Homo sapiens: one gene and its partner. The protein of the gene in region 1 interacts with the protein of each later gene in a biochemical or structural test. Each region holds a gene or a part of one and is shown on either strand. Other genes may lie near its edges. The genes, in order: ITIH2 and FAM20C.

Region 1 (3,817 bases):
ACACACGGTCCCCCATATACACGGCCTTCCCCACTATCAACATCCATCCCACATCAGAGTGGTGCATTTGTTACAATGGAAGAAGCTGACACATCATTATCACGCAGAGTCCACAGTTAACGTGGCTGACCCTTGGTGTTGTACATTCTATGGGTTTGGTTAAATGCATAATGACAGGTGTCCACCATTGGAGTATCATATAGGGTATTTTCACTGCCATAAAAATGCTCTGTGCTCCACCTACTCACGTATCTCCCACTCCCCAACCTTTAGCAACTGCTGATCTTTTTATAGGAATTGTTTTAAAATCAATATTTAACTTCTGCAACAATTTGCTATATACCTGTAAATACATCTAGTGTGCTTCTGTCAGAGAGGGAGCTATTTCTCGTTTACTTCACAGTCATAGTTTACAGCCTTGCGTATTTCTTCTAACCTTATTGACATCAGGGATTTTCTCTATGAGTTCAGTCATACAACTGCATTTCATTTTCCCAGCCTCATTTAGACCCTGTTCCACCTTCCTGAGAATCCTGTCTTATAGACAGAATGAGGCTTGGGAATGGGAACTTTTATCAAACACCTCTGTGTAATTTTGATGCAGGTGGTCAACCATCCATTGCTCTGGGGATATAGTTTTCATGTTGGAGAGTTGAGATGCAGCTCAGCTGAGAAGTCAGAGGGGCCATGGATGAGCATGGGGGAGCCCTTCCTTAGGGAACATCATAATCACATAATCATTAAATTCTCTTTGGACAAGAAGCCGTTTTCAAGAGTAAATGCAAATAAATTACTGATACATGAAGCAACCAGAGGGGACATAGATGAGCATAGGGGAGCCCTTCCTTAGGGAACACCATAATCGTTAATAATCATCAATTTCTCTTTGGACAAGAAGCCATTTTCAAGAGTAAATGCAGGGCTGGGTGCAGTGGCTCATGCCTGTAATCCCAGCACATTAGGAAGCCGAGGCAGGCGGGTCATGAGGTCAGGAGATCGAGACAGTAAATGCAAATACATGCCTGATACATGAAGCAACATGGATGAATCTCACCAACATCATATTGAGTGAAAGAAGCCAGGAACAGAGGAATACAGATTGCATGATTATGTGAAATTTAGGATCAGGCAAAACTGATGATCACAGACATTGAAAGAGTGGTTACAGTGGAGGAGGGGGGTGGGTGTTGAGGGAGAACAAGGGAACCTACATCTGGATCTGGGTGGTGATTACACGGATGATAGATATAAAAATCCATTGAATGGTGCACTTAAAATTAATGCATTTTGGCCGGGTGCGGTGGCTCATGCCTGTAATCCCAGTACTTTGGGAGGCCCACTCGGGTGGATCACGAGGTCAGGAGACCGAGACCATCCTGGCTAACATGGTGAAACCCCGTCTCTACTAAAATACAAAAAAATTAGCTGGGCGTGGTGGTGGGCACCAGTAATCCCAGCTACTCAGGAGGCTGAGGCAGGAGAATGGTGTGAACCCGGGAGGCGGAGCTTGCAGTGAGCTGAGATGGCGTCACTGCACTCCAGCCTGGGAGACAGAGCGAGACTCTGCCTCAAAAAAAATAAAAATAAATAAATAAAATAAAAATTAAAAAATTAATGCATTTTGCATACTTTACTGTATGTTATACCTCAATAAAGAAGAAAAAGAGTGAACCCAGCTTTCTCTGAAGTGTTCAGAACTAGTGGAAGGTAATAATCCAAGCCTGTGCTAATGTGCTGTCTTTCTTGCTTCCAAACTCTTTTTGTGTATGACTTCATATATTCACGGTGGACATTTCAGTTTTGCAGATCTCGTGGTGTGGGTACTCTTCTCTTCTTACCGTTCAGCTAGCAGTTGGTTGATGGTTAGATAGGCCCACAGTTTCCTGGTGAAATCGGGATCTGCATGCTTGTCTTTCGATAGAAAATCCTGCAAGTCGTCCATCTGGGCCAGGGTCTCCAAGACTAACTGCGTGTTAGCCTAGATGATGGAAGGTTCAGTTGAGAGACACTGGGTAACAGAATTATAGTTCATTGATTCACATTTTTAGTACCTGCTGCGAATGAATGGGAATAAAAAAGAAATGGAAGGCAAAGCCTACGGAGGAAGGAAATGCATTCCTGTGCTTGGGATTGGGCTTGGGTGAAAAGGTCAGGATTTATGGAATAGCTGGGAAGATGGCAGAGATATTCTCATGCCTTCTCCATCACTGATTGCTTCTGTTCTACACCCATGATTCCAGGCAGGCAGAGCTGACATTCAAGAGGGACTGTATCTAGGGGGTCAGTTAGTAGATAGAATAAATGGATAAGTGGAAGTACCGAAGTCGCCGTGATAACGCTCTCTATTTGATCCAATTTAGCAGGGTCAAATTTTCCTGCCACCACAATCTCTGAGCCTCCAAAGTAGTTATGGAAATTGTTTTGAGTGACGTCCGTGACTGATGTATGGGGATAGTTGAACTGAACATTCCGGAGCAATGGAGTGGAGACCTGGTTGTAGAATTTCTACAATTCACAGAGAGAGAGAGAGAAATTATGTTCCTACTGCTTTGTAGATCTAAAGCATTTTATTTTATTTATTTATTTATTTTGAGACGATGTCTCACTCTGTTGCCCAGGCTGGAGTGCAGTGGTGGGATCTCGTCTCACTGCAATCTCCGGCTCCTGGGTTCAAGCAATTATCCCACCTCAGCCCCACAAGTAGCTGGGATTACGGGCACCCGCCACCAAGCCCGGCTAATTTTTGTATTTTTAGTAGAGACGGGTTTTCACCATCTTGGCCAGGCTGGTCTTGAACTTCTGTCTTGTGATCTGCCTGCCTGGGCCTCCCAAAGTGCTGGGATTACAGGGATTACGCCCAGCTGATCTAAAACATTTTACTCTGAGATTCTTCAAAGAATCAGCAGATACCTCTTAATTTATTCACACAGGACGTTTGGGACAAGGGAAAATGCTCGTAATTATCAGATTAAAAACAGAGAGAAGACAAAGACTTGTTGAGAACATTACCTTTGGTTTAAGAGCCTGGCATTTTTTTCCCTTTCTGTTACGGTCAGCGTGAAAAACTCTTGGACAAACTTATGATAAAAGTCAGCAGGAGGTCGGGCATGGTGGCTTGACCTGTAATCCCAGCACTTTGGGAGGCCAAGGCAGGCGGATCACCTGAGTTCAGGAGTTTGAGACCAGCCTCGCCAACATGGTAAACCCTGTCTCTTCTAAAAATACAAAAATTAGCCGGGCCTGGTGGCACATGCCTGTAATCCTGGCTACTCAGGAGACTGAGGTGCGAGAATCGCCTGAACCCAGGAGGCGGAGGTTGCAGTGAGCCGAGATCGCAGCACTGCACTCCTGAACCACTGCACCACACCATTGCACTGCCATTGAACGTACTTGTCACCCAGCCTGGGTGACAAAGCAAGACTCTGTCTCAAAAAATAATAGTAATAATTAAATTTTTACAAAAGTCAGCTGGGTTAATAGTCCCCAAATCAGAATCTTATCTCTTACTTGTTCCCAAATTTAAATACGATGCCTGGTACTGACAAAGAGCAGGGAAAAACATGTTCTTTCCCTACATCATTTTCTCATCTATTTAATCAAAACAAACAAGTAGTTTGTGTCTTTTCAATATATGTATTTTAATTAAAAAAATTATCTGTTGAACAGATGGATCTCACTATGTTGCCCAAGCTGGCCTTAAACCTCTGGGCTCGAGTGATCCTCCCACCTTGGCCTCCAAAGAGCTGGGATTACAGGCATGAGCCACCACACTCAGCCTGTATCTTAATACTTAAGAAAATTTACACTGTGAAAAATT
Region 2 (3,817 bases), on another chromosome or scaffold:
GTCTAGATGCTGGGCCCTATTCTCCCTGCTGCCTTGGGCTTGGAGATGCTCACAGGTGAGTTCTCATTTGTGAAGAGGTCTGTCTTCCTGAGGAAGCAGGGGACCCTCACCTGTGAACCAAGTGTGCCATGGGAGCTGCTCCATGTCCAGGTCCAGGTCTCCTGGTCTGCAGGGAACGGCACAAGAGGGCTGGCCTAGGCCAGGAGGATGTGATCTGTCCTAGAAGGGGGCTGACCTGCTTGCTGACCCCGCTTGCTGCTGCCTGGCTGGCCTGACTCAGCCACGGCTGTTCCGAGGGCCCTTCTGAGTACGAACTTCCAGTTGGAGGATCTGGGTGAAGACCCAGCTGCTTGAGATAGCAGCCTCTGGCTAGGCCCTTGGCGTGGCCAAGCCAATCAGGCAGGTTTAGAGCCTGGTGCCCCTAGACAGGTCCTGCAACCAAGAACAGGGGTAGCCTTCAAAGGCCAGCCCTGCCTTCCAACCACCGCTCCACAGCGAGGGAAACCAAGGCTCTTAGGGCAGGAGGCTTGTCCGAGATTAGCACCTGCGTGCTCCAGGCTCTGAGTTCTGTCCCCTCAGCTGTCCGGCCCCTGGGTGCTCACTTTAATCTCAAGTCATTCATCTTACTATTAAACGTGAGCCCAGAAATATTGTTGTAATGGAGAACGATGCCTGCGAGTCTCCAAAGCCTTCCCTCGGAACGGTTCCATTAAATCTCTCCTGCTCAGAACCACCCAATCCAATTCATGGAGCGCCACGTGGTCTACAGCACAGCTGGTTAGGGCCAGCGGAGGTTTATTTATAGCTGGGCTCCTGGCTGCCTGGTAACCGGCCATTGCCACCTTTAAAGAGTCTTGGGATATTATCTACCTCTATTCAGCTTGAAATCGGGCATGCAGTGCCTTGGGCTGGGGCTGGCGATAATTAAATTTCTATCATGCACAATTATGGATGCAAAGAATGAATGACATCCCACTGGCATGTGAGGATTCGGGCAGCTTCTGGACTGAAATACAGACTTCATAATTGCTCCATCCAGATTGGGACAAAGACTGTGGTTGGGAGAACATGCCTGAACAAAGAAAAATGACTCTGCAGGACCAAAGTTCTTGACACTGATTGATCTGCCAAAAGGGGAAGAATGAGTCCAGCTAGAATCCAGGACTAACCAGCGGGTGAGCTTCAAGGAACAAAGGGCTTCCGCTGGGTCAGCCCACGAGAGGGAGCTGCCTGCAGGTACCTGGGAGGGCACAGCCACCGTGTCTGTTCCTTGGGAGCAGGGCTCCTTGGAAGGCAGCGCCAGCTCCAGAAAGGCCACTGTTCCCCCTCCCACCCACCCCAGGTGGCAACTGCCCCTGCAGGTCACGGTCCCAGGGCCTCGCTCGGCCGGCCTAGAGAGAGAAAAGGGAAGATGCCCAATTAGCTGGACGCCCATGGCCCCAGGGCTGGGGGACCTTGGGTTATCCTGAAAGAAGGACAATGACCACCTGCAAAGGACGATTTCAAGTGGAGCCTGGAGGAGGCGGCAAATAGCTCAGTCCGCACTCAACTCCCTTCCCAGCCGTCTGGTGGAAGGTGAGGAGCAAAAGCTCATGCTGCTGAGGCCTGGGGCCACCCAGGCACCGGCCTCCCCGTGCTGAGCAGAGACAGCAGCCCCCTAGCTGCAGGAGTGTGCCCCGATGCGCACCTGCCGACTTTCCTTCTGATGCAGACATGGTCCCCACTGGGGCAAGGCTGCAGTTTTCTTTTAAAAAACAGATCTTTCAAAATAAAAGGGGCCTTGAAGAAAATCGTGGAATAAATAACAGTCTGGGGTGGAGGCGGTTCTGGCGAAAGTGTCCTGAGGGTGGTGTGTGATGGACGGGACTTTGGGCAGTGCTGATGGGGCCTTGCCTGTCACTTGAGGCCTCCAGGAGAGTCGAGGACTGGCAGATCCAGGTCCAGAGCAGGTGCAGGCTCCCAGCTCTTCCAGCCCCTTACCTCGCAGTAGGTTCCCACAGTTCTAGCCTCCTTGATGCCAGCCCCAGGGTGCCCACTGCTGGCCAACTATGTCCTTTTCCTCAAAACCAGGTCCCTCGGTGCCCAGGGTGAATGGGTATATGAGCCTGGGTGTGGGCACCCGGGGTCTGGGACACCGAGCAGACCTCTCTGGCTTGGAGATGTGTGCGGTGGGAAGAACAGGGTGACCTGAGCTCTCCCGGTGTCACATTCTCCACATCTGAGCCCTCTTTGGGTGAGGCCCTACTTCCAGCACACACAGCTGTCCCCATTCGTCTTCAGGAATAACTGACCCTTGAGGCCAGACAGTGGCTGTGAAGAGCAGGGGGACCGCCTGACCGTGACCCCCAAGGACAGACGCTGGCCCTCTTGACGGACGAGATGACCAGGGCCAAAGGCGGCAACATGGGGGCCCACGCTGACGGCAGCATCTCACACCTGGATGTGTTTCTGTGGTCCACAGGTCTGTAGGAGGTGGAACTGGTTAATTTAAAGTCAGGTTGGGGTTGTTGTTAGAAAGGGTTCCTGCTCCCACGAGAAACCAAGGATGAGTGGTGGCTGCACCCAGTCTCCATCCCCATGAGCACCCTGCGGGGTGTTGGGACCCCCAGGCCCGGGCCACACACCTCTCTCTTTCAGGGCCGTCTCTCCCTGTCTCTCCAGACCTGCTCTGGGTTCTTCCTTCTAGAGCTTCCCAGTGGGTTGCCGGAGCTGTCTGGGGTTATGTGGCTTGCCTAAGGCCACACCGATTGGGGCCTGGCACCAAAGTCCATTAGTATTTCTGTGACAGCAGCCATCTTTCTATGTAAGACGCTTATTTCATAAGAAATGCCAGCATCTCTTGGAGTCCTTCTGAGGAGGCAACTGCATACGAACATCGCCTCTGTCTCGTGCTGTGACCCGGGGAGAGACTGTGGGCAAAACCCAGTGGCGTCCGAGGGTCTGTGTGGCCCCGAACTCTTAGTGCTGACAGCAACATGAAATAATGAAGGCACAGGGCACTCTGTTCGTGCATGTTAACTTGTGTAACTAGTGCACGTTAATCACATTAACTAGCCATGTTAACTAGTGACGTAGATTAATAATGATGAATCAATAGGAATGAGTCCTGTATACTGACGGATATCCGGGCGATAGGATTCTTCAGCGAGGCCGGGGAAGAAGCAGACTGTCACCTTTGGTCTAAAGTTGGTGGGTTAAGTGGTGGGAGGTGCTCAGGGCAGGTGGCAGGAAGGGGAGAGCGTTCCAGATGGGGAGAACCTATTTGAAAGGCAGTGGACATCTTCCCATGTGCATAGAGAGGACGGGTGGCCACTGGGCGAGATTGCACTGGGGAATGGGGCTTGTGGACATCTTCCCGTGTGCATAGAGAGGACAGGTGGCTGCTGGGTGGGATTGTACTGGGGAATGGGGGGGCCCTATGGATATCTTCCAGTGTGCATAGAGAGAATGGGTGACTGCTGGGTGAGATTGCACTGGGGAATGGGGCCCGTGGACATCTTCCTGTGTGCATAGAGAGGACGGGTGACTGCTGGGTGGGATTGTACTGGGGAATGGGGGGGCGCTATGGATATCTTCCCATGTGCATAGAGAGAATGGGTGGCTGCTGGGTGAGATTGCACTGGGGAATGGGGCTTGTGGACATCTTCCCGTGTGCATAGAGAGGACGGGTAGCTGCTGGGTGGGATTGTACTGGGGAATGGGGGGGCCCTATGGATATCTTCCAGTGTGCATAGAGAGAATGGGTGGCTGCTGGGTGAGATTGCACTGGGGAATGGGGCCCGTGGACATCTTCCCGTGTGCATAGCGAGGACGGGTG

Evidence for each region.
Region 2: of the proteins of ITIH2 (region 1) and FAM20C, one has a biochemical effect on the other in vitro, tested with the Homo sapiens proteins (one large-scale study listed by IntAct).

The regions. Positions count from the first base shown.
Region 1 is NC_000010.11:7,730,499-7,734,315, reverse strand, and holds part of ITIH2 (inter-alpha-trypsin inhibitor heavy chain H2 precursor), read right to left. Parts: intron 2,506-3,817; coding exon 2,320-2,505; intron 1,979-2,319; coding exon 1,839-1,978; intron 1-1,838. UniProt on the Homo sapiens protein: May act as a carrier of hyaluronan in serum or as a binding protein between hyaluronan and other matrix protein, including those on cell surfaces in tissues to regulate the localization, synthesis and degradation of hyaluronan which are essential to cells undergoing biological processes.
Region 2 is NC_000007.14:198,894-202,710, forward strand, and holds part of FAM20C (extracellular serine/threonine protein kinase FAM20C precursor), read left to right. Parts: exon of another isoform or gene 1-1,790; intron 1,791-3,817. UniProt on the Homo sapiens protein: Golgi serine/threonine protein kinase that phosphorylates secretory pathway proteins within Ser-x-Glu/pSer motifs and plays a key role in biomineralization of bones and teeth.